3 separate regions of the Homo sapiens genome follow, and all the other regions are reported to be linked to region 1. Evidence: microRNA targets listed by miRTarBase, many of them from high-throughput screens and not tested one by one. Region 1 holds a microRNA gene; each other region holds the end of a gene's coding sequence.
Evidence for each region. Region 1 holds the annotated microRNA hsa-miR-3167 (AGGAUUUCAGAAAUACUGGUGU, at 1,845-1,866, opposite strand). A microRNA usually pairs through its seed, bases 2 to 8, with sites in the 3' UTR of a target mRNA and lowers its output. Matches are read on the target gene's strand: a 7mer-m8 pairs with bases 2 to 8, a 7mer-A1 pairs with bases 2 to 7 and ends in A, and an 8mer does both.

Region 1 (3,347 bases):
GGAAGCACTCTTGATTTCTTTCCAGTTGTGAGAGGAAGGCAATGATGTCAGTGACGGATTGGCATAGCTGCTGTGTTCCACATCATAGGTATGACCTTATCGTAAGTTTGGCTTCTTATGCCCAGGACAGATCCCGATTCCTGATGTAACATGAAAACATGAGAGGCAGCTCCCACGAGTCACCTTAAATTCTCTGGTTAGAAAGTGACTTTCGACTCCCTTGTAGACTTACTATCAGCAGTGTCCACATGGAGGTGAAAATGAGGGGACACCATAAGGAAGCAAGACTCAGCCTTGATGGCACCTGTGCTCCAAGCTGAGCAGGCCTCAGGAGCAGCTGGTGGGCTCGGTATAACACAGGCTGCTGGTCAAAACCCTTCTGATGTAGAAGGTCTGGACTGGGGTCCAAAAATGGGGATTTCTAACAATCTCCAAGTTGACCTGCAGACCACACTTGAAGAACCACGGTGATAGAGAATCTACGAACTCAGATAACCCAGGAACCATAGAAAGACCCTAATACTTCCTTGATATGTGAGATAATTACCTGTCAGGAACACGCAAAGGGAGTCTACACCTAGAATTAAGGGGATACACTGACCCACAAAGATTCCTTTTCCATTGCAATTGTGAGTGAGCAAATCTAGCAGAGTCTATAGTACGCATAAAGTCAACAATGAACAAGACTAAGACAATTTAACTAAAAAATACAACCGTCTATGTATTTTCAAACTTTCCTTGGCATGAATACAATGGCATGGATCTTAGAATATCTGTTGATAATAAGAGTGAAAGGTAGATTTCCTGTTATTTTCACAGACAAACAGGAGAGGTAAGTGTTCAGATTTTCTGGTTGGTATGTCTTGATTCTGACCAGTTCCAGTATTCAGCTGTTTTCACCTGTAAAGTATGGATTTCTCTCTGCAAAAACCTCTGTCCCAATCTGATGAAGAGAACACCCAAAACAAAGCTCATGCCCAGAGAAAGGAGCATTGATATGGATTTGGAACCCAGGCATCAGCTGCCAAGGCTCTGTTGATATGACGGCATGTCCCACTGAAGTAAAAAGAAGGCATTTGAAGTATTCTATGCAGAGATCTATCTTCCTTGCATTCCTCCTCTGTATTGCTCTGATTCGATCTAAAGGAGCTTTGAAAACGTCAAAGAACTTTCATGTTTTGCTAGTTTATCATAAGTGTCTATCTTAAACCAATATTACAATTTTAAGCATGGCCTGGGTAGACATGTGCCATCTTCTAAAATGATTTCTGACACAAGGTAAGTTGTACCAGCCGAGACCAAAGTGAAAAGAATCATAGGCTCTATGACACTCAGGCTCTCCTACATTCTAAGAGTCTTTTTATTTCCCCCTAATAACCATTATTAATCATTTCAGAAACACGTAATCTCCTGATATTTTTACTATTCTAGACTTGACAGAAAAGGAGGGTTTTGAAGTTCTGGAAAGTCTTTTTATGTAGAGTAGCTCCATTCTTCCAGCACACAGCTACCACAAGGCTCAACTCTCCCTAAGCAGAATGGGATTTATTTATTTATTTCTTAATCCACTGAAGGGAAGCTGGGTGATGATGAATTCTTTTAAAGAAATCAGCATTTGGCTTTCAAAATGTTAAGCTATACTGGAAGTGGGTTGTGGAGGCAGAGAGCAGTCGCTAGCCATGGAGGAAAGCTTCTCAAATTCTTACTCAGCTTTTGTTTGGGGGAAGAGGTTTTCTTCCATTTTTATCAGCTCTCCGTCCCAAATCCTACAAGCTATGAAGGAGGGGACCCACCGGCCAGGGCAGGGGTTTCTGTGGCTTGCTGATGGTCACACGGCTGTCGGGACACCAGTATTTCTGAAATCCTTCCTGAAGAATTTCAGAAAAAAGAATTTCAGAAATACTGGTGCCTCCACAGCCGTGTCGAGGGCACAGGTGGGCATAGGCCTGGAGGTGGCTCCTGAATGGAGCAGCAGCAAGGGCTGTAAGGGGTCTGCACAAGGGTGTTTGATTGGCAGGTCTTTGACTCTCCAGTCGAATGACCTTCAGGCAAGTTACCGAATCTGTCTAAGCCTCAGTAGTTTTCATCGGCAAATGGGTCTAAGGATCCCTACTTTATTAGATTGCTAGGGGATGGAATAAGGGAATGCATGCAAAACTCAGCAGTGGGCCTGGCCACAGGCCTCAGTACCATCTCCCCGTGGCTGGTCCCCATTCAGCAATCACAAGGCTTCGGGGGTAGAGAAACATGCTGAGGCCAGCACACTGAAACCATTACAGGTTTTGATTTTTTTTTCTCACCACTCTCCTCCCTCCTCAGTTCAGCTTTCTATTAAGGTATCCCAAAACACTAACGCAGCTCTTGGTGAAAGGAGAAAGGGAAAAAGTGGCCAAATCAAGGGGTCGGGGGACAGCAGGGCCAAGGTCAAACACCTCGTTGGTATAACATCTTTTAATTTGAGGAGGAGCTCAGTCCCCATTATTTTCAGTAAATTCTCAAACTATGCAGCTCTATGTTTCCTCTTCTACCCTTGTAGCATCAACTCTGCAGTTTGAAGTAAGGTTTTGCAAAACTTATGCAAAAAGTTTTCTTTTCTACAAGAGATGCTGAAGAAGTCACCTGGAATTTGCTAGTAGAACTATCAGTAAAATGAAGACAGCAATCCTGCCTTCAGCCCAACTCCACTGCCCAGAAAGGCTGGCACTGTGGGGACGAAGGGGGCAGTGGCAGCTCACCCTGATGCAGAGAGAGCGGCAAGGGACTCTGATGGTGAGTCAGCTGAGGGAAGCTGCTGGGGTCTCAGCACACCGTATAGAAAATCCCTCCAGCAACTTCAGAAAAACTGAATGAAAGGCCAAAGGTAACATAAACCGCCAGCTCTACCAACCACTCAGGCTGCAGACCAGACAAGGGAGTGGATTGTTCCCATGGTGGCTGCACCTTTCCTTCATTCTATTCCCGCTATCTTAGTTCACGCTGCCTGTGGATCAACTCGGGATCTCAGACACATCTCGTCACAATTATCAAGTGGCAAAAAAGGTGAGCCGCCATCCCCTTGGAGGTAAAGAAAGGCATGACGAAGTCTTAGGGCCAACAGGGGAACGAAGTCTTAGGGCCAACAGGGTTCCCCCGGTGTCTCTCCTGCAGCATGAAGGCCATTGTTTCCAGGGCCTGTGGCCAGGATCCAGTTATCTTGCCTGGAAGGATGTTCAAACAGCCATGGCCCGTGGTGGTTTTTTATAATGGTGTTGTTGGAAATTAGTAATACCATCCAGAGGTGAAAACAGAGTAGCACCTCCACAGCCTGCCCAGGAGATCAGGAATAATGAAGCCTCATTTTAGCATCT
Region 2 (3,347 bases), not on the chromosome of region 1:
ACAAAAATCAGCCATGTGTGGTGGCACGTGCCTGTAGTCCCAGCTATTTGGGAGGCTGAGGCAGGAGAGTCACTTGAACCGAGGAGGTGGAGGTTGCGGTGAGCCGAGATCATGCCACTGCACTCCAGCCTGGGTGACAGACTCCGTCTCCAAAAAAAAAAAAAAAAAAAAAGAAAGCAAGTTCGTAAGGGGAGTTATGAGATGATGGAGCTTAGATTCTCAGACCAGGAGGAGGCCCATCTGAGCTGCCTCGAGAGGGAAGAGGGTCCCTGCCATAGGCAGATTCAAGCAGGCCTCTGGGGTGGCCTTGAAGGCAAACCTCTTCCCACCCTCAGCTGCGCCTGTTGTGTGCTGAGGGGAGGTTGGGGACCTGGAGCCTGGCTCCTGCTCAGGCACATACTGTTGCCTTCACAGTCGGACATGCTGCGGTCTCTGGCCACCACCCGGCCCACGGTGAATGCAGACGACCTCCTGAAAGTGAAGAAATTCTCAGAGGACTTTGGGCAAGAGAGTTAAAAGCTGCTTCACTTGGGCAATGGTGAAGGTGGGAGGTTGATTGGGGCAAATCCAGGCACTCCCCATGTCAACAGCCAGACAGGGCTCCAGGGCTTGTCCCAGTCAATACAGAGTTCCCTCTGCTGTCTGGCCGTCTGCCAGGGAGCCAGAAGGAAGGGCCTTGCAGCCACAGAGACACTCCACTGCCCTGGGGCACACAGTGGACACTGCTCTTCCTACTTCCTCCTCTCCTGGATGCTCATCAGCTCCTTCTGCCTCCCCCCCTTTTTTTTCCATCTTTTGTTCCCCTAAATTAATGCTGCTTGGATTTTCATCTTATTTATAAAGATAAAATCACCTGGAAGTGTCAAGGAGTGGGGCGGGGTGGCGGGGGAGAAGCAGCCGTGCTGCCAGGTCACCCAGACCTCCAGACAGCCGGCTAGCCCCACTGCCCGTTCCTTTTACGCCCAAGTTTTGCTCCTTGAGAGCAGATTGGCTGATGCCCCTGCAACCCCAGCCCAAGCTCTGCCTCAAAGACCGAGTGACATAAGCCATTCCCACCCTCCTAGGTTCACATCCAGGGCTGTGTCTTCCTTGGGGGAGGAGATGGTGTCGTTTAGATCAGGGTAAGGCAGTCAGGCGGGTGTTCACCACTGCCTTTTCTTCCTCTGAGCGTGAGAACACTGAACCCAGCCACTGCCCCTGGGTCCCTGTCCTGGAAATGGTCTAATAAATCCTTTTCCCTTCTTGAGCTACCCAAGTGATCTCATCTTTCCTTGACTCTTAACTGAGACTCTGAAGGGCCACCCTTGCTTCCAATTAAAAGACCCTCTGGTTTTCTGTCTCCTCTCTTTTCTAAAGCAGAGCAGGAAACAGAACACTGCAGTTCTTAGGCCTGTTCTCCAGTCAGGTGTGCAAGGCCTCCTCCCCTTAAGGCCTCAGAAGTTTGGCTGGGGATGTTTGTGGGATCCAGACAGTTCTTGCCGTTGTTCGGCCTACAGATCAGAGACTGCAAAGTGGGAGCCCTGCGTACCAGACCCGTCCTGCAGCTGTGTTTGTTTGGTTTGGTCTGCCGCTAACATTTAAAAGTCGAGAGTTGCTGGGCGCGGTGGCTCACGCCTGTAATCCCAGCACTTTGGGCCGCTAACATTTAAAAGTCGAGAGTTGCTGGGCGCGGTGGCTCACGCCTGTAATCCCAGCACTTTGGGAGGCCGACGCGGGCGGATCACAAGGTCAGGAAATCGAGAACATCCTGGCTAACACAGTGAAACCCCGTCTCACTAAAAATAAAAAAATTAGCCGGGCGTGGTGGTGGGCGCCTGCAGTCCCAGCTACTTGGGAGGCTGAGGCAGGAGAATGGCGTGAACCCGGGGGACGGAGCTTGCAGTGAGCCGAGATCGCGCCACTGCACTCCAGCCTGGGCGACAGAGCAAGACTCTGTCTCAAAAAAAAAAAAAAAGTCGAGAGTTGACATAAAAATTCAGAATTCTGACTTCTAGAAGATTAAATTAGGTAATGTTGGGCCTGCGTCCTCATGGGGCAGCCTGTCAGCGGCCACTAAGTAGAGGCTGCTCTGTACAGAAGGGGTCCCCCATCCCCACTCATCTGTGTTGCCTGCCCAGATAGCCCCATGGCCATTTCAGTTTGCGACCCCCAACAGACCAAGGACCCAGAGCTGGCAGCCCTGGACCCACGTCCGGCAGGCAGTGAAGCTGCAGAGGCTGTCCCACGTTTACCCCATGCATATAAACAGACCAAAGTCAAAGCACATTCACACAGAAAGACCTGGCCTAGTAAATGAAGCTTATAGCCTGCAAAGGGCTTTGTTCCAACCTTCCCTCTCCAAAACCCAGTACTGCTCCTCTACCTTTCAAACCTGGTTGGGCCAGAACTGATTACATGGCCAACTCTTGGCTCACACTGGGCTTGCACTGGGCCATTTCTTTGCTCTGGTTCAGAGCCTCTGCAGAAGTGAGCTAACTTTGGATCAGTAGCTCCAACACTTGGCTCCAGTGCTGGCAGGTTACCCCTCAACCATAGCAGCTGGGATCTTTGTGGCTTGGGGGTGCTTGTGTAAGTTCTTGGTTATGTGCCCTCAGCCACCAGGATATGAACCGTGTCTGCAGAGCTTCACTTTAGTGAGCTTACAAGTTTTTAAATTTTTACTTCTAGTTACATTTACTTGAATCAGAACGTTGTTTCCTCATTCCTACTGCTTAAACACCTTGACAAGTCCTAGGGGTTAACAAAGGTTAGCATGGCTATGGTCCATCCCTGTGCTCTAGTTAGAGCGTGAAGACACCTGACTTTCCAGTTGTCTCTCTCCATGACCAGCAACAGGAACCACTGACGCTGAACTTTGGACAGTGGCCTCAGACTCTGGCTGCCAGCACACAACCTGCCATCATCGATGTTAAACATGCTGACATGTGCAGAGGAGTTTCCTCCCTGAAATGCTCTGAAATTCACTTCTCTGCCTGGGGATTCTGTTATAAACCTTCTGCCTACATTGGCTTTCACTGTGGAAGTTGATTTCTAAAACTCTGATGAGCTCACAACGTTGACATGTATATGCGTTTTTTGTGAGTGCTTCCTGCTCAAAGTGGGAGAGATTTTACTGGAAATGCAATAAAGTTTGCATTTTATTGCTACCGATGCCCACCACAAAAGCGTTAACCTCAGAAAGCTATAAGAAGCATCAAAAGATTGCCATAGCCCCCTGTAAGAGCTTCTGAACATTGTCCAAATGAAAGGAGGCTCAGCTGAATTCTAATTTTCCTAAAGACCCATGTTTTTAGCATCTATGAGCTTTCTACAAATCTCCCCATTGGCTGCATCTCTGACCTTGCACC
Region 3 (3,000 bases), not on the chromosome of region 1:
GGTCTTGAACTCCTGACCTCAAGTGATCTGCCGCCTCAGCCTCCCAAAGTGTTAGGAATACGGGCGTGAGCTACTGCGCCCAACCCCATTTTTGTTTAAAAACTAATAATAATCACCCACACATGGTTATGAGTACCTATATTCCCAACTCCTCAGGAGGCTGACGCGGGAGGATGGCTTAAGCCCAGGAGTTTGTGGCCACCTTGAGCAACATAGCGAGACTTCATCTCAAAACAAAATTTATCACAATAATCATTTTCACATAAGTATACCTATAGGGGAAAACCTAGAATATACATATAGCAGTCTTGTCCAACTTGCGGCCCAACGCAAATCTGTAAACTTTCTTCAAACAGTACGAGGTTTTTTTGTGATTTTTTTTCTTTTAGCTCATCAGGTATTGCTAGTGTTAGTGTATTTTATGCGTGGCCCAAGGCGATTCTTCTTCTTCCAGTGTGGCACAGGGAGGCCAAAAGATTGGACATCCCTGATATACACATTAACAGGTGCCATCCTTGGATGGCAGGATTATAGAGATTTCTACACATTCATGTCTGTACTACTTCATTCTTATAAATACGCATTTTCCACTCGTAACAAAAAACTGTGATTGAAAATCGTCCCGGGTCACAGTGTCTCACGCCTGTAATCCCAACACTGTAAGAGGCTGAGGCTTTGGGAGGCTGAGGTGAGCAGATCACGGGAGGTCGAGTTCAAGACCAGCCTGGCCCACATGGTGAAACCCCATCTCTACTAAAAACACAAAAATTAGCCAGGCGTGGTGGTGCACGCCTATAGTCAAAGCTACTCGGGAGACTGAGGCAGGAGAATCACTTGAACCTGGGAGGCGTTGCAGTGAGCTGAGATTGTGCCACTGCACTCCAGCCTGGGGAACAGAGTAAAACTTCGTCTAAAAACAAATAATAAAAGAGGCTGAGGCAGGAGCATCACTTGAGGCCATGCGTTCAGGACCCCATCTCTACAAAATAAAAAAATTACTGGCATGGTGGCACGCACCTGTCATCCCAGCTACTCAGGAAGTGGGAGGATTGCTAGAGCCCAGGAGTCGAGGCTGTAGTGAGCAATGACTGTGCCACTGCACTCCAGCCTGGGTGACAGAACAAGATCATATCTCAAAACAAAAAAAAAGAATCATTCTGGCTAACGGCTCTTCAGACATCTGTGCTTATGAGAACAGCAGCCCCTTCTAAGCTGTGTGTGTGTGTGGGTGTGTGTGTGGTGCGTGTGGTTTTTTTTTTTTTTTTTTGAGACTTAGTCTCACCCTGTCACTCAGGCTGGAGTGCAGTGGCACAATCTCAGCTCACTGCAACCTCCACCTCCTGGGTTCAAGCAATTCTCCCACCTCAGCCTCCCAAGTAGCTGGGATTACAGGCACTCGCCATCATGCCTGGCTAATTTCTGTATTTTTGTAGAGATGGGATTTCACCATGTTGGCCAGGCTGGTCTCGAACTCCTGACCTCAAGTGATCCGCCCGCCTTGGCCTCCCAAAGTGTTGGGATTACAGGCATGAGCCACTGTGCCCGGCCGCTTTCTAAGCTTTGTGAAGAGTGGGTTGACTATTCAGATCTCTGCTTCTGTCCCGCTGTGCCAAGTGCTGGGGCAGACACAGGCAGAGAGTGGACAGCGGCACGGTGCCTGCTGCTAGCCATTTCTATGCAAAACCAGCTTTCTGGTCCCATCCTGGAGGCCAATTCTAGGCACCTGGGTGGGCCTGGGAACCTGTGAACCAAGTAAACTGACTTGGACACCCCCCTACCCCGCCAGGCCTGTCCTAGCAGCCCCACACAATACCCTCATGTCCTGTCCCCAAACACCGCCATCCTCAAACACATGTGCTCTGTTTCCAGGCCGGGCCGGGATCAGATGGGAAGTGGAACCTCGTCATGAGCAGAAACTGTTTCCCTACGAAGAGCACTTGGAGATGGCAATGCTGAATCTCACCCTGTAGGACTCACACACGACTCCAACGGGATTGTGAGAATCAAGTCACTCTCATGGGAAGAATTTTTATATGGGAAAGCGGATAAAACTTTCATTGGACTGGAATGTTTGGAGAATGTTAATTTCCAAATCAGGAACCACAAACTGCCCTCTAATAAGACATCGGCTATCTAAGCGTGTGGGTGCCCCCTTTCTGCCAGCAGTTCTGGTTCTTAAGAAAATCACCATAAATCAGACATGAAAATTCTGGCTCCAAAAATAGCATTTTCTTTGTGCAAATAAAAACGTGTGTATCAAGTATGATGTTCCCCCAACGTGGACACACTCAGTTCCTCACAAAGCCAAGCCCACTGCAGCTGCCACATCCCTGGGCTTACGGTGCAGCAGGTGCTTTTTTCAAGACAGGAATCAAAATGTTAGGAACACGGCAGAAAGGGGACACCTGGAGACCAAACGCAGGATGAGGAGTTCTGCAGAGGTCACAGGGAAGTCACAGAACAGTAATACGCTAGCAGGGGCATGGGGCGTGAAGAACAGAAGAAGAGAGGAAGCGTTTCCAAGCCTCCAGAGAAGAAATCAAGGCCAACCAAAGCTTCCCGGGTCACAGAACCAATTCTTTTACCAGGCAGTACCACTGCTGTCATTTCAGCTTCTGGCCACTGGGAGGTGCTGCTCGAAAGGGTTTGCCCTGAGACTCCAAGAAGAAGCTGCGGGAAGGACAGCAGGGGTCCTGGGGTTTTAGCCTCTGGCCCAGGAGTTATGTGTCCATAACCAAAGGGAGCACAGTCTGCACCCAGCTCTCATCCCATCGGAGCTGCTGCGACTCCCGCAGGTTCTTCCGGAACTGGTTTAGCTTGCCCGCAGGATCAGGAAAGTTTGAGAAAAGCATCTGCAAAAAAATAAAGAGCAGAGCTTACCTCATTGCCTGTCCCCACCCCATCCCAGGTCACCACCTGGCTGACCCCAGGTCCCCGACCCAACAACAACCCCTCCCAAGTCCCTAACTCCCTCACTTGGACTCGAGACCCTTCACACCC

Region 2: miRTarBase lists VPS4A as a target of hsa-miR-3167. Seed matches in the 3' UTR shown: 7mer-A1 at 564-570.
Region 3: miRTarBase lists ALG1 as a target of hsa-miR-3167. Seed matches in the 3' UTR shown: 7mer-m8 at 1,439-1,445.

What each region holds. Positions count from the first base shown.
Region 1 is chr11:126,986,624-126,989,970 of GRCh38, forward strand. MIR3167 (microRNA 3167) reads right to left here and starts at 1,919; the gene lies at 1,835-1,919. All of the region lies in intron 1 of KIRREL3 (kirre like nephrin family adhesion molecule 3), which reads right to left.
Region 2 is chr16:69,323,794-69,327,140 of GRCh38, forward strand. VPS4A (vacuolar protein sorting 4 homolog A) reads left to right here. Exons shown (of 11, transcript NM_013245.3): 11 at 415-3,146. The coding sequence ends at 516. COG8 (component of oligomeric golgi complex 8) reads right to left here. Exons shown (of 6, transcript NM_032382.5): 6 at 2,635-3,347. It overlaps PDF (peptide deformylase, mitochondrial), which reads right to left. Exons shown (of 2, transcript NM_022341.2): 2 at 3,120-3,347. Among named protein-coding and RNA genes, the nearest start is that of PDF, 5.1 kb to the right of the region's middle.
Region 3 is chr16:5,084,602-5,087,601 of GRCh38, reverse strand. It overlaps ALG1 (ALG1 chitobiosyldiphosphodolichol beta-mannosyltransferase), which reads right to left. Exons shown (of 13, transcript NM_019109.5): 13 at 223-2,852. The coding sequence ends at 2,721. It overlaps EEF2KMT (eukaryotic elongation factor 2 lysine methyltransferase), which reads left to right. Exons shown (of 8, transcript NM_201400.4): 8 at 1,870-3,000. The coding sequence ends at 1,970. Among named protein-coding and RNA genes, the nearest start is that of EEF2KMT, 12 kb to the left of the region's middle. RefSeq lists an enhancer at 2,462-3,000.